Linked DNA regions of Homo sapiens: regions 1, 2, 4 and 5 are each linked to region 3. Evidence: fine-mapped QTL for protein levels in blood plasma. A gene starts in region 3. Each other region holds a variant in brackets. All regions are shown on one strand. Distances are between the middles of the regions.

Region 1 (5,097 bases), 54 kb after region 3:
TAATAGAGACAGGGTCTCGCTATGTTGCCCGGGCTAATTTCAAACTCCTGGGCTCAAGCAATCCTCCTGCCTCGGCCCCCCAAAGTGTTGGAATTACAGGCATGAGCCACTGCGCCCGGCCACCTGCTTTAGAAACTCACTGTGAAAATGGGTTGGAATATGACTCCAGGATATCATTAGAAGAAAAAAATCAGTTAAAAAATAAATAAAAGAAAAATAAAAAGAAAACTAAGAAAATGGATTGGAGGCAGGAAAATGAAGGTAGAGAGCTTATAAGGAGCTTGTTCTAATACTGTAGGGGAAAGATGATGACCTTGAGACTAAGAAGGTCACAGTGGAGAAGGGGAAGAGGGGTGTGGGGTTCAGAGGTGTTTAGGAGGTAGAATCCGCCTCAGGCAAACTTGACTCCGTTCCTAATGATAGGAATAACAAAGTGTTCATTTTTATATATTATTGTTTTTGGTTTGGTGCTAGCATTCATTTGTTGCTTCAGTGGCTAGGGAGAATGCAATGAAAATATTTCGGGTGGGGCGGTGTGGTAAGACCCCTGGCAGCCTGACTGTGAGACTTTGGGCAAGTTACATAACCTCTTTGAGCTTCACTTTCTCACTTGTAAAGTGGGGTTTCATCCCACTCCATCACCTTCAAGAATGTTCAAAATCCAGAGATTCTAGGATTCTGTTTCCCAGGACTTGGACGACTCCGTGTCTCCATAGCTCCACCAGGTGGCGCTGCCGGGCCTCGTGACCACTTGGAAAAAGCAGTGTCACCAGAACGCTGCGGAGACCTGCCAGCAGGGGTCACACTGAGGTTGCCTCGTGGTGTCCCTGCCTCTGCAGGTGACCTATGAAATTCCTGGCAGGCCCAGCACAGTGGCTCACGCCTGTAATCCCAGCACTTTGGGTGGCCGAGGCGGGTGGATCACCTGAGGTCAGGAGTTCGAGACCAGCCTGGCCAACATGGTGAAACCCCGTCTCTACTAAAAATACAAAACTTAGCTGGCCATGGTGGCAGGCACCTGTAATCCCAGCTACTCGGGAGGCTGAGACAGAAAAATTGATTGAACCCGGGAGGCAGATGTTGCAGTGAGCCGAGATTGCGTCATTGCATTCTAGCCTGGGCAACAAGAGTGAAACCTCGTCTCAAAAAACAAAAAAAAAAAAAAGAAAAAAAGAAAGAATCCAGGCAGCTCAGTAACAATAGAGGTAATGGTGATATTAGTAAGATAATAATAATAATTATGACAATAAGAGCAGCTGCCACCTACAGAGCAGTCCCTTTGTGCCGGGCCCTGTGCTAGACTTTCACGAGTAATCTCGTTTGAGCCTCACAGTACTTTGAGGTAGGTACTATGATTATCCCCATTTTTCAGATGGGAAAACTGAGGCTAAGAGTGGTTAAGCCAGTTGTCTGAGGTCTCATGGCCCGGAAGGGGATGAGGGGCCTGATTTGGGGTCTGTGTCTGGCTCCTCCCCTCACTGTACTGCATTCCTTTGGAGCTGCCTTGACGATCCTCAGCGAAGGACAGACGGGCTGGGGCAGGGCATGGTATGAGGAGCCCAGGCAGGAACCCTGACCCAGAGTCCCAGCCCTGCCTTCTAGTGGCTCTGTGAGTTGGGCAAACCATTTAACTCCAGTCCGAGCCCAAGTGATTAAAAGTTCATCCCATGGCCTAACCACAACCTACCACACTGCGGTTTCCTGGCTTGCCTGAGCTGGGGGGTGGGGGTGCTGCACAGCATCTGACTCCAGCTTTGCTCCTGCAGATCTGGAGAATCGAAGGTTCCAACAAGGTGCCCGTGGACCCTGCCACATATGGACAGTTCTATGGAGGCGACAGCTACATCATTCTGTACAACTAC[C/T]GCCATGGTGGCCGCCAGGGGCAGATAATCTATAACTGGTGAGGTTCTGGGGCCATTGGTGTGTGTCGTGGGGGTACTGGCTGGGCCCTGAGCAGGGCTGAAGACAAACTGAGGGTGTGAGGGCCTGAGGTGGGACCACCACTCCCTGCTGGGAGAGGCTTTTGTCCACAGGGCAACACCATTTGCTTATTTCTCCAAACAACTTTGAAACTCTTCTTACCAAATGATTATACATCTATTGTAGGATATAGTGAATGTGGAGAAACAAACAGAACATCTCCCACAAATCCATGACAAGTACTAGGCACACTAGGGTTTATCCTCCCACACATATTTTTCAAGCCAAAATTTTTTTAAATTTATATTTGTTTATTTATTTATTTATTTATTTATTTTGAGACAGAGTTTTTCTCTTGTTGCCTAGGCTGGAGTGCAGTGGTGCGGTCTCGCTCACTGCAACCTCTGCCTCCCAAGTTCAAGCAATTCTCCTGCCTCAGCCTCTCTAGTAGCTGGGATTACAGGCACCCACCACCATGCCTGGCTAATTTTTTGTATTTTTAGTAAAGACGGGGTTTCACTATGTTGACCAGGCTGGTCTCGAACTCCTGACCTCAGATGATCCATCTGCCTCAGCCTCCCAAAGTGCTGGGGTTACAGGAGTGAGCCACCACACCCAGCCCCAAAATTATTTTAAAACAGAGAATACATTTACATGGTTCAAAAATCAAAACAGAATATAAAGGTATTTATTGAGAAATCTTATTCCCACCCCTGTCCCTCTCTACCCCATTCTCCAGACCCCACCCCTTCTTGGGTAACTGCTTTACTCTCTTGCATATCCTTCCAGTAACTCTTCGTGAAAAAAAATACATATGCAAATAATTTATAGCCTGGTCCCTCCCTTCCTTACACAAAAGGTAGCATACTTTGTATATTGCCCTGCACCTTGCTTTTCTGACTCCATTCTTCCTAGAGATCAATAATGTCAGTACATAGAGACAGAGAGCTTTCTCATTCTTTTTTACAGTTGCATAATAGTCCTTTGGGTGGCTGTACTATAGTTTATTTAACAAATTCCTTGATGATGCATACTTGGGTTGATTCCAGTCTTTCTCTATTACAAACATTGCTGTGATTAGTAACCTTAAACAAACATCACTTTGAACATGCAGAGACATGCCTCTAGAGTAAGTTCCCAGAAGTCAGATTGCTGGGTCAAAGAGTAACTGCACTTGTCATTTTGGTAGATAGCCCCCAATTTCCCTCGATAGTGTTCGTAGCATTTTACATTCCCACCAAGCAACCTGTGAGAGTCCCTGGTTCCCTATAGTCACACTCGTGGATTGTGTGGTCAAACTTTTGGGCGTTTGCCAATCTTATGGTTTATAAAATGGTGTCTCAGTGTATTTTTAACTTGTATTTCTCTTACTATACAGTCTAAAACTTTTTGTCTGATTATTGACTGTTGGATTTTTTTTTTTTTTTGAGACAGGGTCTTGCTCTGTTGGCCAGGCTGTAGTGCAGTGGTACGATCTCTGCTCACCACAACCTCTGCCCCCCGGGGCTCAAGCAATTATCGTGCCTCAGCCTCCTGAGTAGCTGGGACTACTTGCCACTACTCACCACCACACCCGGCTACTTTTTATACTTTAGTATGGATGGGGCTTTGCCATGTTGCCCAGGCTGGTCTCGAACTCCTCTAAGCGATCTGCCTGCCCCAGCCTCCCAAAGTGTTGGGATTATAGGCATGAGCCACCACGCCAAGCTGGATTCCTTCTTTTTTTAAACTTATTTTGAAATAATATTAGACACTTGCTGAAAAGTTGCAAAAATAGTACAGACAGTTCTCATATATCCATTACCCAATGGAATATTCACCTATGTTCACATCTTACATAACCCTTACATAACCATAGCACAATTAACAAAGCCAGGAAGTGAACATTGACACAATACTACTTACTAATCTATAGGCTTTACCTAAATTTCCTCAGTTTTCCCATTACCGTTTTTTTTTTTTTTTTTTAGACAGAGTCTTGCTCTGTCGCCAGGCTGGAGTGCAGTGGCATGATCTCGGCTCACTGCAACCTCTGCCTCCCAGGTTCAAGCAATTCTCCTGCCTCAGCCTCCTGAGTATCTGGGACTACAGGTGTGCGCCAACACACCCAACTAATTTTTGTATTTTTAGTAGAGACGGAGTTTCACCATGTTGGGCAGGCTGGTTTCGAACTCCTGACCTCAACTGATCTGCCTGCCTTGGCCTCCCAAAGTGCTGGGATGACAGGCATGAGCCATCGTGCCCGGCCCCCACTACTGTTCTTTTCCTGATCTAGGATCTAACCCAGGATCCCACATGGCATTTACTCATCATGTCTCCAAAGTCTCTGAATCTATGGCAGTTGCCCGGTCTTTCCTTTTTTTCATGCCCTTAACACTTTTAAAGGGTACTAGTCAGTTATTTTGTAGAATGTCTCTCAATTTGACAACCCCAGACATTTAAAAACAGCTTAATTTTTTTTTTGACTAGATAACACATTCACCTGGTACAAAATGTGTGAGAAGACTGTTTTAAAAATTAGCTGCATCAGCGCATTAATAGGTCAGATTTTGTTTGCTTATACGACGACATATGTTGGTTATGGAAAACTTAGACAATATGCAAAGAGGTGGGATAGAAAGGCAAAATCCCCCTAAATCTTCCCTCTAAGAGCAATCACCATGGACCTTTTTGGTGAACATCTGTGCAGACCTCTCTGCACGTGTTCATGGGAGGCTTAATCACTGACATCTTTTCCCACAAATAGGCTCTCGTAACACTTGCTATTCTGCGACCTGCTTTTCCGCCCAGAGAAATGTCCTGGCCACTTTTCTGCATCTCAGATTTGAGTCTCAGAGCATCTTCTCTGTGGCTGTTCAGCATGGGATGACCCAGCCAGTCTCCTGTGGGACACATTTAGCATAAGGAAATCCATGCGTTGCACTAAGATCTCTGTAAGCGGGCAAGATGCTAGGCTGAGAGTGGAAGTGTTGGTGTGGTTCCTGGCTCTCGTTGTTCTGAAAGAGTCCCCTTCCCTCTCTATCTGTTTCATTACTGGTAACAGGGAGATGTGTAGGTTTCTCAGACTCAGGGCAAGGGAGAGGCTCAGGGCTCTGTGTGCACCCTGATGCTGAATCTCACTTCCCCTTCCAGGCAGGGTGCCCAGTCTACCCAGGATGAGGTCGCTGCATCTGCCAT
Region 2 (5,104 bases), 620 kb before region 3:
TACTCAATGTTTAGATCCCACTTATAAGTGAGAACATGTGGTATTTGGTTTTCTGTTCCTGCATTAACTTGCCGAGGATAATGGCCTCCATCTGTATCCATGTTGCTGCAACAGATATGATTTTGTTCTTTTTTACAGCTGCATAGTATTCCATGGTGTATATGTACCACATTTTCTTTATCCATTCTACAATTTATGGACATCAGGATTAATTCCATGTCTTTGCTATTGTGAATAGCATGCACTTAATCTTGACACTTTATGTCACACTTAAATAAACCTCTTAGAATCTTGGAAATAGAATATTCATTCTAGGTGAGCAAAATGAGACATTCAATGACTAGCCCATGATAGGCCAATCAACCTTGTAAGACAGTGATCCCTCAGGTTTGTTCATTAAAGTAAGATAAAGAAGAGCAGATAGAAAGAAAAAGTCCTAGCCCTCAAAGAAAAATCCATTTTGCTCAACCCCAATATTCCATCATGACCCTACTGAATAGGGCCTCTTTAGCTTATACAATTCTCATAAAAACAAAGAATAGAGGTTGAAATGCCTCAAAAAAAACCCTTCTTTCTTAGTTCTAGTTTGCATCTGCATAAGTTGACCTTAGGTTTTGAGGACAACACACTCAGAGCCACCAACATAGATCAGTGGTTCTGAAACTTTAGCATGCTGATTCTTGGGCCCTATCCCAGACTTTTTTATTCAATAGGTCTGGTGTTGGGCCTAGGAATTTGCATTTCTAAGCAATTTCCAGGTTAAACTGATATTGCTGGTCTGGGGACCATAATTAGAGAACTACTCTACTAAATTAACTGTACTTATTTCACTCTATTTTTTATATCCCTATCCCTGACTGGTAAAGCTACTTACTTTCCACTTCCAGGCATAGTGATGAACCCTGAATTTGGTATCAATTCTAACCTAAGAAGAGGGTACTTAAGGCAATCAACCTCAGCGGTCTGTCAAGTCCCATTTGCTACTGGTTCCTTTGTCCTCAGTCCCCTATATTCCTAATGATTAATTACAACTATTGTCCCTAGTTTCTCAATGCCTGGCTCCTGGTCTCAGTGGCCCTGCCTCTCCACTTTCCACCACAATGACTAGGTCCATGACACTTGCTTTCAGACTTCTCACATATCAAATGCCTGCCTTTTAACTTAAACCCAAGCAAGTCAGATGTTCTGACACCCAAACCACAGACCTAGCTTTAAATATTTCTAATGCCCTAATTCCTGCCTTTTCCTTTCCAATGATTCTGTATGTATACTCTTAACAATTTTTATTGTTGCCTTCTGTTCAGTATTTATTTTCATTGTAGCCCAGGTCTGATTTCTAGATTTATATTTCCATAGGCCAGTACCTAAACTGATGAGTCATACTCACCCACAGCTAGCCTTGCACTTACATTGAGATGCTCACACTGCCATATCTAATTTTGCCTATTCTATTTCAGGGTACAGTGGGAAGAGACTTGGAGCCGGACAGATCTGGGCTCAAATCTAAGTTCTGCCATTTATTAGTTATGCCATGTCGCTAAGTAATTTAGCTGCTAAGAACAAAATGGATGAGTTGTCTGAGAAGTCAGAGAGGTTTTATGTGTAAAACATCAAGAATGGAGGTTTAAAGTGTTCAATGAATGTTAATTTCCTTCTGTTCCTCCTGCTGCCTCTCCTGGATTATGCAGCTTCTTTCGGTGAACATGTTAGTCAAGAAAGCTAATATATTTCTCTGTAAAAATGTTTCCTTCAAATATCCACAATATCTGTTTTAATGGACATTCTATTCAATTGCAGAACCCTTTGAAAATCAATTCAAGGCCAGCAAAAGTAAAACTTAATTAAAGTAATGGTCATGGTATATGTGTTGGAAACTGGCAAAAGAGAAGGAAGAGATTTTGTTATTGACAATATAAGCCATACTTGCATTACTGCTTTTGGCAATGTGAGAAACATGCCTATGTTCCTTCTGTAGTGTATGTAGAAAACCCCAAACTGAAAAACTAAATTGAAAACCCCAAATTGTTGAAACACACAAAATATATCACACCAGAATATTCATTTAATCTACACAAAGCCATAATAATGGAATTTATAATTTTTAAACTAGTCCTATATACTATGTCAAAATAATCATGGCTGAAGCATTTGTGTCCCTTTTTATGGAAAATCTAAAGAAACTTCAAGTCCAAGTCTCCCTCTAGGATTGACAAATTTAGGTATTTTGAGAAGAAATCACATCCAGGGAGGAAAAAAAGCTGAACAGTCCCATATTTATCTCCATCCTCTAGGAAACATATTTCTTGCTATGAAAAAAAAAAAATCTGAGATGGAAAAAGTCATGCTGATTTAATTTTCTTTCAGGGAATAGAGAGGAAGACAAAGCCTTCTCTGTGGGAACAAGAGGCCTTCTATTTTAGCCTAAGTCTACTAACATGAGTCTTAGAAGCTATTCATTTTAAACTGCAGAGAAAAAAGAACATTAAAATAGGCTATGAATTTGATTGTACATTCTAACCACAATGTCATACATCTAAAATGGCAGGTCAACAAAGTAAGTTTATTTCCTTATCCTAATTTCTCTTCTGTACTTAAGGCTAAGAATTACCATAAGGACCAACTTTGCCCTCAAATAAATAATACTGTCTATA[C/T]TCCCTTGAATGACTGCTTCAAATAACAATTTTATTAACTTTCTATTTTGAAATAATATTAGATTTAAAGAGGAGTTGCAAAGATAGTACAGGAAGTTCTAATCTACCATTCATCCAGCTTCCACTAATGTTTCTTTTTTTTTTCTTTTTTTTTTTGAGACAGGATCTAGCTCTGTTGCCCAGACTGGTGCCATCATGGCTCACTATAGCCTTGACCTCCTGGGCTCACGCGATCCTCCTACTTCAGCCTCCCAAGTAGCTGGGACTACATGCATGCACCACCAAGTAGCTGGGACTACAAGCATGCTTGACTAATTGTGTAATCTGTTGTAGAGATGGGGTCTCCTTATGTTGCCCAGGCTAGTCTCAAACTCATGGGCTCAAGCGATCCTCCTGCCTTGGCCTCCCAAAGTGCTGGGATAAGAGGTGTGAGGCACCATGAGGCTCGGCCTGTTTAACTTCGTATGTAATCAGGACATATTTATCAAAAAGGAGAAATTAACAATGGCACAATACTATTAACTACTCAGATTTCCCTAATTTTTCTACCAGTATCCATTTTTTCGGTTCCAGAATCCAATCTAGGATATTGTCTCGCATTTACTCGTCATGTCTCCGCAGCCTCTTCCAATCTGACAGTTTCTCAGTCTTTTCTTGTCTCTTATGACCTTGAAGCTTTTAAGGGAACTTGACAAGTATTTTGTGAAATTTCCCTCAATTTGGGTTTGTCTGATCTCTTGTCACAATTAGAATGAGGTTATGAATTTTGAGGAAGACTATCACAAATGTAATGTATCTTTCTCATCTCATCACATTAGGGATACATAATATTCATGACATATTGCTAGTGATGTTACCTTGATCACACAGAGGATAATTTTTAATGCTAGGAATCTGTTTGTATGATAGCTAAACTTAAAGGATGGCTATCAGGCTTACTGAAAATAAGCAGTGGTTCGGCCAACCAATTAACAAACACTAGGACCCACTGAAGGCAGGATAGTCAGACAGATATTAATTTGAGCCAGTTTCTGCCACTTATTAGTTGTCTGTTTTGGGGCAAATTAAGCCTCAGTTTCTTCATCTGTAAAATAGAATATATCACCTTCAATTAACTGTTATTTTATCCTTACAAGACAGTAAATATAAAGCACTTACCCTGGCACATAGTAAACAGTCGGTAAATGTTAGTGCTGTTCATTCTGGAGTTGATAGTGGTAGTAATAATGTCAGAAGCATTTGTCAAGTTGTGTGGTATTTTTGTCTCAGAAGGAAGTCAAACTACAGACAGGAAAACACTACATGTTCGTAAGGTTTTAAAACACATTAAGTATAGTAAAATGCCCTATAAGAGAGATGTTTATAAAGATTAAATTTGTAGTTCCTTTCTTCTTTAGCAAGAGAAGTGTGCAATTGCTTTGCCATTTGGGTAGAGGTAGGAAAATAACCCTGAAGCAGATCCTCCTGACTGTGAAAAATCATTTAAGTTGGGTTTCCTTTAGTTACATAAGTATAGCATGAACAGGCCCTACTGTCCTGAGATAAGGGTTTAACAAGACTCTTTATATTTTGAGTGACTAAAGAAAGGCGCTTAAGCCCTGGGGAGGGAAGAAAGTTTGAGGTTTGTTAGTGAAAAGATTCTACAAAATGTCCTCAAAAAGTACTCTTGGGACCGGCTTACACAATGAGATGTGGCTGCATATATAAACTGAAGGAGCTGATTGTTAAGATCTAGAACCTAGGAGACCTAATTTAGAGCATCCTTGAAAGAATGTGGCATTAAGGGATTGGGTTCATCCTCCCTTAAAGAATCACTGCTGCCTCTGCAAGGATCTGGACCAGTTAAAGCATCATCACAGTTGTGAGCAAGCATCATCCATCCATTAGGTTGTTCAGGGACCAGGCTTCACCCCAACAATTCCAGGTAGCAGTGAGAAACAGTAGGATTAGTGAACTGATCAGAATCACATTCCTTTTATACCTAGCATCACAGGAGGACTGACCCCTAGAGTTATAGGACAATTAGTTACCTGTTGATAATGTGTTGCATCAAGAGGAGAGAGTACTTGACTTTATGCTATTTAGGCATATGAGGGCCAGAGCAATTAATTGGAAAAATAAAAGAAGTAAAGTTTGTCAATTATATAAGCTTTCAACTTTCCAATATCTATTGTTTGCTACCCTCAAAGGCCTCCTTATAAAGATTAACAGTTTTAAAAACTCTTAAAAGGTAAAGGGCCTTTGGATTTCTTTTCAGTAATGCAGAAAGAATGTGGATATGGGGACACTGCTTGACACTCAGCAGCAAGGCTAATGCAGGAATAAAAATCCCATGGGATACAGTGGGTGGTAGCAATTGCTGGAGCATAGGAAAGCAGATTCAATTCCTGCAGCCTGCAACAAAGGAAGAATGGTAAGCACAGGGAGAGGGTGTGGGCCTGAGAAGGAACTTT
Region 3 (5,104 bases):
AGACAGGATACCAAGAAGACTTCTAGGCATCCATGAAAGGCAGACTTGATATATCCTGCCAGCTATAAAATACACATGTTGAGTCATAAAGCAAAGCACCAGGAGATTTCTAGAAGTGTTCCTAGAGGAGCACTCCCATGTAAGTATTGGTTATCATCATCACAATCATCATCAATCAATCATCATCATCATTATCTTCATTATCATTTCTAATGATTCCTGGTGATACCCTGTTCCCATGTTCCTCTCCAGCCACCAAATGGAGCAATTACAGGGTTATGGGTAGGCATCTGACCCAGCTTAGAATATGGAACCTTAGATCTAGCTTAGAATGTGAACCCTTTTGCTCTCCTGGCCTCAGTTTCTCCATCTCTAAAGGGAGGAGTTGGAGCAGACATTCTCCAATGTTTCCTCCATCGTGATGTGGTATTCTCCAGTTCTATGGGGACACAGATTCAGAGTTCCACCTCCCTTTGTCTGAGAGCAGTTGCTGGGGCTGGAAATGATATGTTAGATAATTCCAAGGCATGTGTATGCCGGGGCTTGTAATCAAAGATTCCAGAGCCAAATAAGCCTGTGTTTTTGCTTTTCTCCCCAGCAGCCTTGCATTGGGCCCCAGGCAGCCTCTGGAGAAAGCAGAGAGTAGCAGAGATGGTGTGAGCCTCCCTGCGGGGTGGATACCTTGCTTGTATTCTCAGAGAAAGTGGAACTGGGCAGAATTTCCCAAGCCAGGAAAGGTGGCAGAGTGTGACATAAGACATTGAGCAAAGAAGCGAGGGCCAAGGACTCAGGCATAGAAGAGTAGACTGCACAGTATCAGTAGTGTGACCTCCAGAGAGTACTTAACCCTTTCTGTGGGCTTGGCCTGCTCATCTGAAAAATACACATGGTAATGCCTCCCTTAGGAGGCCAGGTAGGGAGGTGAGAATTAAAGTCGGTAATACGTGGGAAGCCCAGAGCATGGCATGAGGCATTCAAGAAATGGTTCTTGTATTTACTGGTGTTGAACAAAGAGAGAATGGCAGGAGGAAGAGCCAGGGTGAGATTCCCTGGGTCCTGTGGCTTCCCTGGCTGCTATTCAATGGAAAAACCAGGGAGTGAGCACTGTGCTCTTGGCTTCTGTGCTACTTAAACAACAGCCTTTTCTGCTCTGATCCCCAGCACCCGGCAATTACTGACTCTAGTACATTTTACCTTGTGTTAAGAGGGAGCTTTACCCTGGCTGAACATGGGGCTGCTGCCAGCACCCAGGCTGGGAATGGACATCTCTGTCATGTGGTGCAGTCTCCTGTGGAGTGTGTGAATCCTTCCAAACCGGAGTCACGCGGCAACTCCAAAAGTCCTGGGAACTCATGTGTGCACCAGGACTGCTGGGAGGCCGTCTTATGCCTTGCTGCATTATAAACGGCTATCGTCTCAAATGCATATGAGATGTTGTTGAAATCAACAAAGTATTACATTTGCTTAAAATTGACCTTGCACTCATCTTTCTACCCAATGTGGATTTCCTCAATCTCCTAAAACAGTATCTGCCATGACACTAATAAGAACATCCCTTCCGTTTATGCAGAAGCCACGGTCCCTGTCATTGTGCTGAGAGTCTTTTTCTCACTGAGTCTTCTCAACCGCCCCATGAAGCGGCAATTCAGGATGCCCATTTGACAAACGAGGAAACGGAGACTTAGACATGTGAGCTCGCTTGCCCAAAGTTACAGGACTAGTCGATGTCTGGGGTTCCAAACCAGGCCTTCTGACTCCGAGGCGCCTGCTTAATGGTCCACTTTAAGGACCAGGGATGCACTTGGCATTTTCGTTACTTCATTCGGAATGAGCTGGGAATCGCTCTTCCTCCTTATTCCCTTCCGTGGGAGGGAATCTCCCCTGCTTTGCATGCAGCCTATGTCACTCTTCGAGGGCTTTGCCTCCTGAAGTCCGTTCTCTCCAGGGCTGAAATCTGCCTCCGCTGGTGCTAGTTGAGCATTGCTCGCTTGCCCGTCCCATCTGAGCTCTTTGGCCCCAGCCCAGCTCAGGAGCTGCCCTGGGTCTCCTCCCCGACCCTAGGCCTCTTCAGATCTCCCCTCCGTGCTCCGGGCCTCAGTTTCCTCCAGGGGAAAGCAGAGGGCTTGGTTTGGTGCCTTCCTGCGAGGTGAAGCGAGGGGTCCCCCTGGACGAAGGCGAGCTTGGAGCCACCCGCCCAGCAGCCGACGGGAGGGCCTGGCGCTCCTCCCCCACCCGCCTGCCCGGCCGCCCCGCCCCGAGGGCGGCTCCCGCCCGCGCCCTGCCCACCCCGGCCGCGCGCACCACAACGCCCCCGCCCCGCCGCCCGGAACCAGCTGAGCGCAGCTGGACCCAGCAGCCGCTGTCTCCAGTGCCGCAGCAGCAGGTAGGGGAGGCGCGCGGCCCCGGCCCCGGGCATCTGGGGGTCCCGGGCTGATTTGAGTCCTTCCTCTCCCTTCCTTCCCGGTCCTATCTCGCCCGCGCCTGGAGCTCGGCCCGGCCGCGGGGGCATCGCTGGAAAAGGGCTTCCTCGCTCACTTTTCCCGTCTTCCAAGGGACCAAAGAGTGTGGATGGGAGTTGGGGGATGGGGAGACGCCGGAGCAGGAGAGGAGAGGGGCCAGGCCTCCACCCCGTGATTCCACTGTGCTGCTAGCACCTGAGCTAATAACCTCGACCCCGCCCCCGGGATGGGGGAACTGGCCCGGGGTCACCCCTGCACTTGGGTTGTCTGACCCGGGCATGCAGGGGACCACCAGCTACGGTCTGGGCGGTGACTCTGCTGGGGAGTCCACTCAGAGGACCCTTGCCTCCTGGACGATACCTGTGCCTGCTCTCCTCTCCAGCTGCTTCCTCTTTCTGGGGACTGTTAGAAAGTTCTTCCTTACACTGTCTGAAATCTTCAGGCGCCTGCTACCTGTAGGTGCTGGCTTCTCCCCGGCCCTGCAGTGTTCCCTTCCCTGACTCACACGGAAGCTTCTTCTGGAGTTGAAGACAGTGATTGGAACCCCTTCTCCCTGAGCCCCCATGTCTTCTGGGGTCCAGCCCCCCAGAACCTAAATAACAGCAACTTCCCTCTGGTCCAGTGCAGGCTGGCTGGTCTGGGCAGTGCCCAGGGGGAAGCCCCAGTCCTTGGAAGGCTGGGGGCTGGGGGTGTGGGTGAGCAGGAGACATTGGCTTTCTTCCTAGCTCCTTGTCTGCCCAGACATCTGTCGCTTTATCCTGTCTTCACACCCTCCTCAGAGCATGGAAGGGAGCTTTAAAACACCCAGAACTCATTCTGGGCTGTCCTGAGGGTAATTGGACTTTGTGGAAGGCGGGGCCTCTGGGGAGGTGCCTTTCGCTTTTGTTTGGCATCTGGGGACTTTTCAAACACTTAATCCTGTGTGTCCTGTTCTCCCAGGACCACATTTCTGACCAGGGCACCAGGACCTCTCACCGCTCTGCCGTTTACAGCGACCATAGCTTGCTAGAATCTTACCCCATCTCCATTTCCTCCATTTCACAGTTGAGAAAAGTCAAGGACCCAGAGAGTTTATGATGGGCTAATTGTCACACAGTGAGGCAGGGTAGGGCTGAGACCCAATTCCGGTCTGCCGTTTGCGGACTCCTTGCTGGGAGGGACTCTAGCCTCCTTCTTGGGTGTTCCGTTTACTAAAGGGACAAGCATTCCCTGTACATACACACTTGGGGGTGCTGGTTGGTGTTTCTTGGGGCTGTTAAGGGGGAGAGGCTTGGAAACAGAGGAGGAAGGATGGGGGTGGGAACGGTCGGCTTTCAGCTCCTTTGAAACTCCATTTTTCTTTCTGGGGCCATGCTATTTATAAATGCCAGGGAAATTGTAAACAGCCAGGGGAGCTTGGGTTGGCACTCGGTGAGTTACACAGCAGCAAAGAAGGTTTCTGTGTGAATCAGGGGAGGAAAGTTTACTCCAGAATTTTCCACAGTCCTTTTATTAGGGACTAACATGAGCCTGGAAACAGGCTGCTCCCAGGAGGGGTGGCTGCAGGGTTTGCCCCGCATGGCATTTCCTTCCTCCCCGCCTCCCTCCTTTCAGCACTTCTCTGGGCCTGTGTTCTGTGCCTTGCCCTGCGAGGGGCCAAAGAGCCTTGGAAGAGGACAGAGCTCTCTGTCCTCAAGATGCTTGCCATCTATACTGTTTGACACTTTTGTGCCATATTAAGAGTGACTTCAGCCTGCAAGAGGAGTGACTAATTTTGTCTAGGTGAGCCAGACCTCAGAATGAATAATCATTTACCAGGAGAAACAGGAGTTGGGGGAAAAGACATTCTGGGAAGCAGGAACCACTAGTGCAAAGGCACTGAGATTTTCTGAGCCATCCATGTGGCTAGAGTGGAGGATGGGAGAAGGGCGGGGTGGTGGGAGGTTGAGAATCTAAATGAAAATGGAACTAGATTATAAGCTAAGGGTTTGGACCTCATCCTGAAGGCAATGAAGAGCTGAGAAAGGGTTTTGACAGAGCAGTGATTTTTAAAAACTCGTTATTCTGAATGGCTGATGTAGGGGATGCATTGAACGAGGCTGATCTGGAGGCAGGAAGGCCCTGAGGAGGCTGTTGCATGATTCAAGTGAAGTAGATTGCAGGTCTGAACTAGAGCAGTGGCCACTGGGATGGGTCAGAGCAGCAGATTCTGGAAGCCCAGCTGAAGGTCTCAGAACCTGCTATAAATTTCATCTAAAAGCAGACAACAGGCTAGACCTACTGGAGAAGGTTGCTAAGGTATTCAGCATTGTAACTTTTTTTTCTTTTTCATGAGTTTTAAAACAAACAAAAATTGTTAAAGAATCCCTCCAAGCCCGCCTCTTTCCCCAGAGGTCGCCACTGTTAACAATGGTGTGTGCACTCCTGCCAAACACGTTGATTGGATGCCTTCACTTTTAGCCATCCAGTGACAGTGGGTCACTTTCCCCTACTCCATGTGAATAGTTTGGGTCATTTGTGATGTGGGTCATAGAGATGATTTCTGCTTGGTCTATGGTACGTTGCTGAGACACTGAGCTCTGGTTTTCTTTAAGAAAACTTTTACATCCTGTGTCTGCGGCCTCTGGGTGTGTATATTTGCTTATCAGAGACCACAGGTGTGAGAG
Region 4 (5,104 bases), 35 kb before region 3:
CTCTGTGACCTAGGATAAGTCCTACTCCCACTCTCGTGAACTTCATTTTATTCACACGTAAATCAGGGTTCATAATCTCTTCACTGCAAACTTCACAGCATCACTCAATGGATTTCATGAGCACCTACTACGTGCAGGGTAATCACATTCCTAACGCTAAAACCAAAGGGTAAGCATCGCTATACTCCTCCTTTAGTACATGATCAATTGGCAGTCCAGGGCCAACGAGAAGCAAAGCTGGGATTCCATCAGGCACTCTCTGACCTCCATGTTTGTCCTTTTCCATAGGTCACACTGTTTAGAAGGAGAAAGAAGAGCTCGCTGTGAAAAACGCTCCACAATGCTGCAGAGCCTTGTGAAGGTGGAAGAGTACTCTCATCAGCAAACGGCATTCCTTCCATGGAAAATGTCATTGGGAGGAAAGCAGGTGACTTTGGATTTCTTTTTCTTCTTTTCTATCCTTGTAAAGGATTTCCTTCTTCTCTATCTTTGATAACTCGTGAAAGCCTTAGGTTAATATTATCTACCAAGGACTCTACACTTCAAATAAGAACTGGGTGAAGGTAGCGGAGACCGAGCCAGCCCAGAACCAACTGCCTCAACTGAAGAAACTGACCAGAAAAGCCCTTTGAAGCTGTAATTAACTTCAGACATGATTTTGAAGAAGAAGAAGAAAAAACAAAAAACAAAATAACAGTAATGTCAGTGGGTATCAGAACTCCAGCCAATTCAACTGAGAGCTGGGAAGAGGGAAGAGAAAGTGCTGCAAATTTTCAACAGAGTGACCACAGAGTCCTACAGTATGAGCTCTCGTGGTGATGTAGCAGGCAGGCTTCTATTGTTTTAAAGATGGGGAATCATGAAAAAGAGAGAGAGAAGGGAAAGATGGGAAAAAATTTTAATCTTAAAAATATAAAAGCAGGCCAGGTGCAGTAGCTCACACCTGTAATCCCAGCACTTTGGGGTGCCAAAGCGGTCTCAGGAGTTTGAGACCAGCCTGGCCTACATGGTGAAACCCCGTGTCTACTAAAAATATAAAAATTAGCCAGTCATGGTGGCGGGTGCCTGTAAATCCAGCTACTTGGGAATCTGAGGCAGGAGAATTGCCTGAACCCAGGAGGCGGAGGTTGAAGTGAACTGAGATTATGCCACTGCACTCCAGCCTGGGTGACAGAGCGAGACTCTGTCTCAAATATATATATGTATATAAAAGCATTTGCAGCTATTCCAGATTAATATGGGAGGAAGTGATGGGAGAGACCAGAAGATTTGATAATCCCAAACCTAACTTGTTATAATGTGGTACAATGTAGACTGGTTTTCCTTGAGGTCAGGGACTGGACCTGCTTCATGACTGTCCAGTGCTGAGCACAGGGTGTGGCATCTGGTGGGATCTTAGGAAACATTTATGTAATGAGGAAATCTAGGAAATGTGATTGAAAATCTTCTTGACACCTTAGGGCCCTCACTATGATTGCAAAAATTATTAGTCTGTATAGATTAAAGCCAGGCTTCTGATTTATCTGGTGGGGCTGGTTAGTCAGTTATCCCTTTTTCACAGCCTCAGGCACTCTTGGCAGAGTTACATAAGTAAAAAGCCATGTGTGTATGCATGATAGGGATGAACGTATCAGTTAAGGGGCAGACTCCAATTTTGCAACCTTTTTAAAAAATATATTTTATTGTGATTAGAACACGTAACATGAGGACTACCCATTTAACAAATTTTCAAGTGTACGATATGGTATCATCGACTATAGATGTAATATTGTACAGCAGATCTATGGAGCTTATTCAATCTTGCTATCCTGAGCCAAGAAAATAAAAAGTATTTGTGTTTGTGAAATTGATTGGAAGAACTCTGCCAAAGGAAAGGCAACAGTTAGGTCTCAGGCAGGCCGGAAACCAAAACTCCATGGATCATAGAAGTAGAGACTCATGGGTACTTCCTTTCAAGAACCTCCGCTTTCCTTGATGTTTGCTTTGTGGCTGAGGAGACAAAGTGGCTCGATGGCACTCTCAGCTTACAATTCAGAGGAACCATTGTTGAGTCCCCTGATAGAAGTTTTCATCCCTTGGGCTTTGTGGTGGATTAAAGACGGCTACAAATTCCCTATCACTTCTCTGTTGAGAGGTGAAATGTGTTTCCTCAGCCCTTGAATACTGGGTTGGCCTGAGACTGCTTAACCAACAATATGTGGTAGAAGTGATGCTCTCTGTCAGCTCTGAGGTAGGCCTTTAATAAGACTAACAACCTCCTCTTCCTCCCTCTTGGAGCCCAGAGCTGCCACATAAGAAGTCCAGGCAAGCCAGGCGCGGTGGCTCATGCCTGTAATCCCAATACTTAGGGAGACTGAGGCAGGTGGATCACAAGGTCAGGAGTTCAAGACCAGCCTGATTAACATGGTGAAACCCCGTCTCTACTAAAAATACAAAAAATTAGTCGGGCGTGGTAGCATGCACCTGTAATCCCAGCTATTCAGGAGGCTGAGGCAGGAGAATCTCTTGAACCCAGGAGGTGGAGGTTGCAGTGAGCTGAGATCACGCCACTGCACTCTAGCCTGGGTGACAGAGCGAGACTCCATCTAAATAAATAAATAAATAAATAAATATCCAGGCTATTCTGCCAGGCACACAGAATAAGACCACTGAGGCACAGGAGGTCAAATAAAGATGCCATCTTTGATGTCCAGTCCAGTTAAACCTTCAGATGGTTCCAACCCCACCTAGCAACTGGCTGCAACCTCGTAAGAGACTCCAAGCAAGAACCACTGAGCTGAGCCCAGCCAACTCATAGAACCATGAGAGATAACAATATTTTACTATTTAAAGCCACAAAGTTTTGGAGTGGTTTGTTGTACAGCAACAGATAGCCAAAAGAGACC[C/G]TAAAACCTATAGCTAGCAAGGCCTAGAGTCTCAGGACAGGAAGTCTAACATTTGGAGAGCAGATGTTAGGTGTCACCTTGAGCAATTCCACCCCTTCGTTCCTGAAGCAATTGTTTCGATTGGAATTCAGTTTGCCTTCACTGAGCAACAGAAAACCCCAGACAATAATGCCTTGAACAAATCGAAAGTTTCTTTCTCTCACAAAAGTCTGGGTAAGTGATCCAGACTGGAATAGTGCTCTAAGATGTCAGGGACCCTGGTTCTTTATGCTTTTTTTATGCAATGCATGACCTAAGCCTCGTGGGTCAAGATGACACTTCAGGCAATAGGACAGAGGAAGGGATGCAAACACAAAGGGTGCTTTCTCCTGTAGAAGGTTATTTAAAGCCACCACATGTGGCTTCTTCTTGTATTCCATTGGTTAATATGTATCTCACGGCCGTGCCTAGCTGCAAGGGAGACTGGAAAATGGTATCTTGATTTTGGGTGGCCATGCACCCAGCTCTAAATTCTACTACTTCTAGTAAGAAAGGCTATTGGGAGACACTTTGCAGTGCCTGCCTCACTGCTACATCTTGAAAAGTAATAGAGAGACACAGGAAATGGCATCACATATGGGATGCTGACTCACAGCACCGATCCCTTCCGGAGGGGAGCAAGCAGTTATCTCCCCATGGGCACTGTGAGCCTCCACAAGGCCATTCTACTGTGCTATAGGAGCCAGCTGCTCCTGGGTCATGGGTGGGGTCTGTTAGGTGAAGAGTGAATCCCACAGGCCTTAAGTCACTGCCACTTTTGCCATGAAGTGAATTCCTTGATAAGAGGGAGCATCGTGTGACATACGATGACTAGGTAAAAGCTTCTATAAGCCCTCAGGCTGTGGTGCTGGTGGAGGCACGAAGGGCAGGGAAAGCAAATCCAGATAAAAAATAAATGTAGGGTTGGGCATGGTGCCTCATACCTGTAATCCGAGCACTTTGGGAGGCCAAGGCTGGAAGATCGCTTAAGCCCAGGAGTTAAAGTCTGCAGTGAGCTATGATTGCATCACCATACACTAGACTGAGCAACAGTGTGAGACCCCGTCTCTAAACAAATAAATTAAATAGTTAAATAAATAAATGTAGGACATTGCCATGAGAACAATTTGGCTGTTCCAGATGGAGTTAGTTCCCAGCTGAGAAACAGGGAGGTGTGGGGCAGAAGGAAGAGTGTTAGCTTCCTTCCTTCTCCATGAGAGGGAGGCGCAGAGGAAAGGCTGCAGACCAAGATGGTTAGTGGGTAGGAATTCTCCAAGTTCTCTCGCAAGCCCCAGATATCACCATCCTTTCCTAAAGGAAACCTGGCAAAGTCATGCCGTTGGCTGTCACTGAAATTCAGCAACTCCCCGAATCCGAGTTTGGCTTTAGCAATCTCGCACCCATGGCCCCAGTGAACAGTTTCCATCTGGCCAGAGAAAAGTCGTGAGTTTCACTTTGTGCCTTGTGGCAAACATCTCAAGACGTGAGCTTGTCCTTATCCTAAATCAAGATACCTGATGCTTTCAGAAGCAGCCACCCTACTGGTTTCCACATCTTTCATCTCCCTTTTAGGTGGCTGAGAATTTTAGCTTCAGCTTGTCCAAAGTCCCAGATTACCCAAAGAGATTATGTGCTTAGCCACTGTCTTCCAAGGGCTGGTCGTTCCTATTCTGGAAGACAATTAGGATTCTCAGTGCCTCTCTCCCTGTCCAGCTCAAGAATCATGGATCACTTGGAGGAAAAGCTAAGCTCCTGTAATAAAAAGGCAAACTAGAGTAGCCTATTTCCCCTTGAGGTGAGTGGCCCAGAGCAGAAGGGCAGCTTTGGTTCTTTGTCGCTCATTCTTCCCCAGGGCAGTGTTCTCTTCTGCATCGGTGCAGCTGGGTTCTGGCTGGTGGGAAAGAAGACAGTGGAGAAAGCTTGCTGGTTATCTTAGAACCCAGGCCCGGAAATGACACGTGACTCCCACTTCATTCCCCTGGTGAGAATTCAGGCACCTGGCCACCCTAAACACAAGCAAGGCTGGCAAAGACAGTCTAGGGGGACAGCCATGTGCCTGGCTCCTATTATACTTAGGCAAAAAAGTAGAATGGAAAGCCTTTTGGTGAACACCTAGCAGTCTCGGCCACATATTCCAAATAGCTCTTATTTCCTTGAGGGTCTGAATGAGTTTTCTAGGACTGCCATAACAAAGTATCATG
Region 5 (5,089 bases), 730 kb before region 3:
TTTGCTCGTGCTATTCCTTCTACCTAAAATGCCCTTCCCCACCCTACCCCCGCCTCACCCCCACCTCTACCTGACAAACACCCATTCATCCTGCCAAAGCTAATTAAGCTCCCCTCCAGGAAGCTTTGCTACCTGCACCCCTAGTGCCCCACTCAGGAACAGCTGAACACATCCCTCTCTGGGCTGTGTTATCAAATAACACAATATAATTACCAAATTATCCCATATCAACTGCCCCTTGGCCATGGCAAGTAATTCCATCTCTCTGAGCCTGTGCCTCCTCAGCTACAAAATAGGGGTGACTTGTGATTGTGGACCAGAGACAAGCTATTTAAAACAATCTTGCACTGCTCCTGGAATATGGTGGAACTCAACAAATGACAGTTGTTATAATTATTACTTTTTTTTTTTAACATGTAACAATTAGCATTTTGTCAGAAGACCCTCAGAATAGCCTTTCTGCAGCTAAACCAAGAAAGCAACTTAGTTTGGGAGAAAGAAGAAAGATTTTGCAGTCAGACAGAGCTGCCCTAGTGAAGCACAGCTTCCTGGGATGAAGGTAAAGAGGGAGACAAAGGTAACTAAAGCACCTAGCAATGCACTAGGAGACAAGGTGCCAGGCAGCACCAGTGCAATGCCCCAGAAAACCTGGAAAGAGGTGTAAGATTGCCCTCTAGGGGCTCAACTTTGAAATCGTCACATAATCAATGGGAGAGGTAGTCACCGAACTATATACACTTAAAATTGAAGCACTGTGTTGTATGTAATTTATACACCAATAAAACTGAATTTTTTTTTTTTTTTAGTTACCTTAAAGCAAGTTCTACATAGAGAAAAGAAAAAGTAGGCAGGCCTGGTGGGGACTCCTGTGGCCAAGCTGGAGCACCAAGCCCATCTAAGGGGAGGGGTAGCCTCAATCCAGCAAGATGATACCCAGGGCTGCCAATCTCCTAGGTTTTAAACAGAAGGTGGAAATCCAGACTTCTGCATGAAATTCAATTTTTTACATACTGGCAACTAATTCACACTTTAAAAAATACTGTAAGCCAAACAGATCATATCTGTTGGCATATTTGATCTGCAGGACTTCCCAGTATTAACTGCCTTAAAGACACAGAGCAGCTCAAAGGCCAGATTGAAGACAATAAAGTAGCTAAAGCATGCACCTTTAAAAAGGGTGGTGGGAGCCCAGAAAGATATTGGCAGAGTCCATCCACGTGAGGGGTCCCTGGGCCCTAAAGATTCAATACCTTGCCCTGCCCAACAGTGAGTCAATCTGTGTCGCAGATCTGGATCCGTCTCACCAGGGCAAAACCAAGGACTCTGGCTCCAGTTTTCTGCTAACCATCTGACCTTGACTTAGCTTCCTAGGCAGGCCTGCCTTCAGGGAGGGAACACGCTGATCCTACACACCCAGGAAGGTTTCACCACAAAGAGGGCCACACCCTGAGCAAAAATCCAGAGCTGGCATCTGACTGCTGCACTGATCTCTGGGAGTGCGCCTGGGACACAGCTATCCCTGAGAGACAGCTGCATTCATAGGACTGACATGTTGGGTTTTGGTGCCTCTCCAGTCAGACCTATGGGAAATCCCAGGAAGATGCCGCCTTTAGCAAAGCTCTGATCCGACATCCATGGAGACTCTACCACCTAGAACACAGTAAGTACTTGATACACGTTAACCCTTCCCAAAGTCCCCCTTCCAAAAAAAGATGAGCAATTAAGCTTCTGTGGCACATGCTAACAGGACCACTCTCCTCTAGGATCACCTTAAAATGTGCCAGGCTCTGTACCTTTACGTGCTGTTCTCTCTGCTAGGCAAAGCGTCCTCACCCAACTCGCAGGACTCCTTGTCTGACAAGCCCTCCCCATTCCACGCCCAGGCAGAGCTGATCACACCTTGCTTTTGTCACAGCACGGAACCCTGGGCTCACCTCTATCACGGCATCAATCACGACATATATTTTTTTTAACATCTATCCCCTCCCACACTGAGAGCACCATAGAAGCAGGACAACGTTCAGCCCTGCATTCCCAGCACGCATTCCCAAGGCCACACTCAGTAGTTGGTTAAGGAATGAATCTATACTTCCTCTAATTCAAGCTTTAATTCATACACCCAACCACATCCTAGACTCTACTCACTGAAGCTCACAGGCCCTCAAACCCAACATGTGCCAACTGAAGGTATCATCTTCCCTCTCCCTCCACCCAAAAACATTTCCTCTTTTTCCTTTTCCCCCAACAAAATTCAATAAATTGCACCACCCCACAGCTGCTCATGTTCAAAACCTGGGCAAGGGCCAGGCACAGTGGCTCATGTCTGTAATCCCAGCACTTTGAGAGGCCGGCAAATCACCTGAGGTCAGGTGTTCAAGACCAGCCTGGCCAACATGGTGAAACGCTGTCTCCACTAAAAATACAAAAATTAGCCAGGCTTTTTTGGTGGCGGGCAACTGTAATCCCAGCTGCTCAGGAGGCTGAGGTAAGAGAATCACCTGAACCTGGGAAGCTGAGGTTGCAGTAAGCCAAGATCACGCCACTGCACTCTAGCCTGGAGGACAGAGTTAAGACTCCATCTAAAAAAAAAAAAAAAAAAAAAAAAAATGCCTGGGCAAGGGTGTGTCACTGTAGCTTTTCCCCTTATCCCCCAGATCCAGTCAGTCACCAAGCCCTTCAAGCCCATCACATCCACTCTACCTTCTAGCCTGTTCTCCTCCATTCCCAGCTCTGTCACCTCCACTTTGGTCACCATCAGCTCTTTCCTGGATTTCTGCATCAGCCTGAGAACCAGTCTTCTACCCAGCCCCAGTGTCAATCCATTCCCCAAGGGCAGGCAGAAAGACCTTTCTAAATTTAAATCTGATCTTGTCATTCCCTGAAGCCCCACCTTTAACTCTTCAGTGGCTTCTTGTATGCCTTTAGGATAAAACTCAAATTCTTCAATAAGGTCCATGTCACCTCCCCAGCTTCCCTCTCCTCACCTCTTCCCCACTCCTTTCCAGAACACAGCACTCAGGCCAGGCTATGCACCCTCCTGTACCTGCATCCTGCCATGTTCCTTCTTGCCTCTGGACTTCCACTCGCACTGTTCCTTTACTTTCCTTTCTCTGTCCAAGTAATTCTTCCTCTTCCTAGTACTTCTCCCGGGAAGCTTTTCCTAATCCCTCTAAACTGAATTAGATATATGTTAACCCAGCATTGATCCTACTTAGCCCTTATCATCCTGCTCCTCCCTCCACCCCTCCCACCCTGCTGGATGATAAGCTTCAACTCAAACAATGAGATTCCTGGGGAGAGGAACCCAGGCTGTATCACTCCTTCTTACATTCTCATCACCACTGTGCTGAGTAGAAGATGCTCAGGTGATATTTTTTGAATAAAAGGCATAAAGATCCAATAGAACCAATTAACTGACTGCTCAGCATCTGTCAGGACCCTCAGAGGGCCTTTTCTATTCATTCTGTCCCAGGACCTCTTTTCAAACCTATCCCAAACCCTCTCCTTCCCCTTCACAGGCGCCAGGAATTCTGCCAGTCTTTTCTTCTTTGGTGGCTGCTCACATACTCTATTCCCTGGGTCCCCTACTCCCAGTTTAACTGCTCCAGACCTGTAGCTCCCCCAGGAAGACAAGCCCATAAGCCTTCTAAGGGCTTCACTGCTGATGGGTTGGGAGAGATACAAGGGAACACGGAAATGATTCTGTGGAATTCTCACAGTCTAGTGGCTCCATGGGTGATGCCTGGAAAGGCCAGTACTCTGGGGGGAGGCTCAGTAGGAGGGCACTTCCCAGGGAAGTTTCTCTTCCTAGCCATGAAGTCAAGAAAAACACAAGGTGTCAAATGGGTAAACTGAGATGATATATATTCATTCCACTGAGGTCCATGGGGAACCCAGTTTCCTCACTCACCTTGAAATTATTAATCATAAAACTTTCATTTTCCAGATCAAAGCTAAGAAAAGATTGCAGAGCACCAAATAAATGCTCGCACCTCCAAATGCTGAAGCTAGGGCACTTACATGGAGGCATGGGCTCTCCCTCTGGGTCTATTTACTTTTCTTTTACAGATAATCCTATCCCAAAGATTAGGATTTGCTCATCTGATTTTCCAAGCAGCAGACTCCAATCTCCACAGGTGGTACCAAGGCAGAAGTAAAAGCAGACAAGAGTTGAGGAACCCGGCAGTTAGGCCAAGCACCTAAACAACACAGTAGTGCTAGTCAGTGCAGAGGGCAGGCACCAAATGACCAAGAAAAAGGAGCCAGTCAGTATCCTCCGAAACAGATCATTTGCTTTAGAACAATTTCTATCAAATTCCAAACAAGCTCGGCTCTTCAACAGATAGGTCACAGGTTAGCCAGCAGTTGGACTTATATTTAGTTAACCTTCCATTTAGTGACTGCCAAATAAGGCAAGAGTATCATAATGTAAGGTTTATGGTAAGGAATAAACTCAACTTTCTCCTGACAAGTTTTTACCAAAAATTTCGTTGCAAAATATGATGGGCACTAAAGACTGCCTAAAGGACATATCAACTACCCAATAAACTAGAAGGCACCCATTTTATCGTGGATCATCAAAGAGCTCTG[T/C]ATTTGGTCTACACTGTTTTATTTTTGACACCTTGCCCTGTACTCATTTGGGCCTTGGGCTGCATTAAAAGATATAATGGAATATAAGTCACACGAAATTCACTGTTATTTCTTGTGGGGGCAGTCACTCACTGTTCACTTTGGGAAGAACCACAAGAGAAATTTCCTCTGATAGTGCCAAGTAAAACTGGGCTTCTCCTGAGTTACTAGCTTGTTTTACCTCATTTGCAATGTAAATCTTGTCTCTACCCTTTTTCCTTTGGCTCCCAGGAAGCTCATGGGCAAAATCAAATGCTAACTTTAGTATCTGAGTGGAACTTTTTAGCATGAATGTCTATCAGTAGACAATCTCTGACCTCATATGACTATGCTATTCCTTTTCTCTTCCTCCTGATTTTATCCCTAGTTTTCTATCTAACTGTGTTGGACTTGTTCCCATTAGTCACTCAAGTCCTATGGGAAACATGGGGAGAAGGGAGGGATAAAAGAGAATAAAAGG

Which allele goes with the higher level. Alleles are on the strand shown, and positions count from the first base shown. The strength of an association depends on the size of the effect and on how common the allele is.
For the plasma level of the protein whose gene starts at base 2,326 in region 3, allele C in region 1 goes with a lower level than allele T (moderate association).
For the plasma level of the protein whose gene starts at base 2,326 in region 3, allele C in region 2 goes with a higher level than allele T (moderate association).
In carriers of allele G in region 4, the plasma level of the protein whose gene starts at base 2,326 in region 3 tends to be lower than with C alone (moderate association).
For the plasma level of the protein whose gene starts at base 2,326 in region 3, T is the low allele of the variant in region 5 and C is the other (weak association).

The links. PIP is the posterior inclusion probability: the model's chance that the variant is causal. The UK Biobank Pharma Proteomics Project read protein levels with antibody pairs (Olink). The fine-mapping took linkage between variants from a reference panel, not from the people measured, so its PIPs are less certain.
Region 1: its variant is fine-mapped to the plasma level of the GSN protein (UK Biobank, PIP above 0.99). The variant lies in the coding sequence of GSN. If it changes the protein, the assay may bind it differently, which can mimic a change of level.
Region 2: its variant is fine-mapped to the plasma level of the GSN protein (UK Biobank, PIP above 0.99).
Region 4: its variant is fine-mapped to the plasma level of the GSN protein (UK Biobank, PIP above 0.99).
Region 5: its variant is fine-mapped to the plasma level of the GSN protein (UK Biobank, PIP 0.92).

Annotation. Positions count from the first base shown.
Region 1 is chr9:121,319,502-121,324,598 of GRCh38, forward strand. GSN (gelsolin) reads left to right here. Exons shown (of 18, transcript NM_198252.3): 11 at 1,767-1,900; 12 at 5,053-5,097. Among named protein-coding and RNA genes, the nearest start is that of GSN-AS1, 37 kb to the left of the region's middle. The variant C/T (reference allele first, on the strand shown) is at 1,863.
Region 2 is chr9:120,640,916-120,646,019 of GRCh38, forward strand. The region is part of intron 2 of MEGF9 (multiple EGF like domains 9); the gene reads right to left. Among named protein-coding and RNA genes, the nearest start is that of CDK5RAP2, 63 kb to the left of the region's middle. The variant C/T (reference allele first, on the strand shown) is at 2,652.
Region 3 is chr9:121,265,837-121,270,940 of GRCh38, forward strand. It overlaps GSN (gelsolin), which reads left to right and starts at 2,326. Exons shown (of 18, transcript NM_198252.3): 1 at 2,326-2,383. RefSeq lists a silencer at 2,214-2,513.
Region 4 is chr9:121,230,877-121,235,980 of GRCh38, forward strand. It overlaps a transcript of GSN not described here. Among named protein-coding and RNA genes, the nearest start is that of RAB14, 32 kb to the left of the region's middle. The variant C/G (reference allele first, on the strand shown) is at 2,886.
Region 5 is chr9:120,531,217-120,536,305 of GRCh38, forward strand. All of the region lies in intron 7 of CDK5RAP2 (CDK5 regulatory subunit associated protein 2), which reads right to left. Among named protein-coding and RNA genes, the nearest start is that of CDK5RAP2, 46 kb to the right of the region's middle. The variant T/C (reference allele first, on the strand shown) is at 4,591.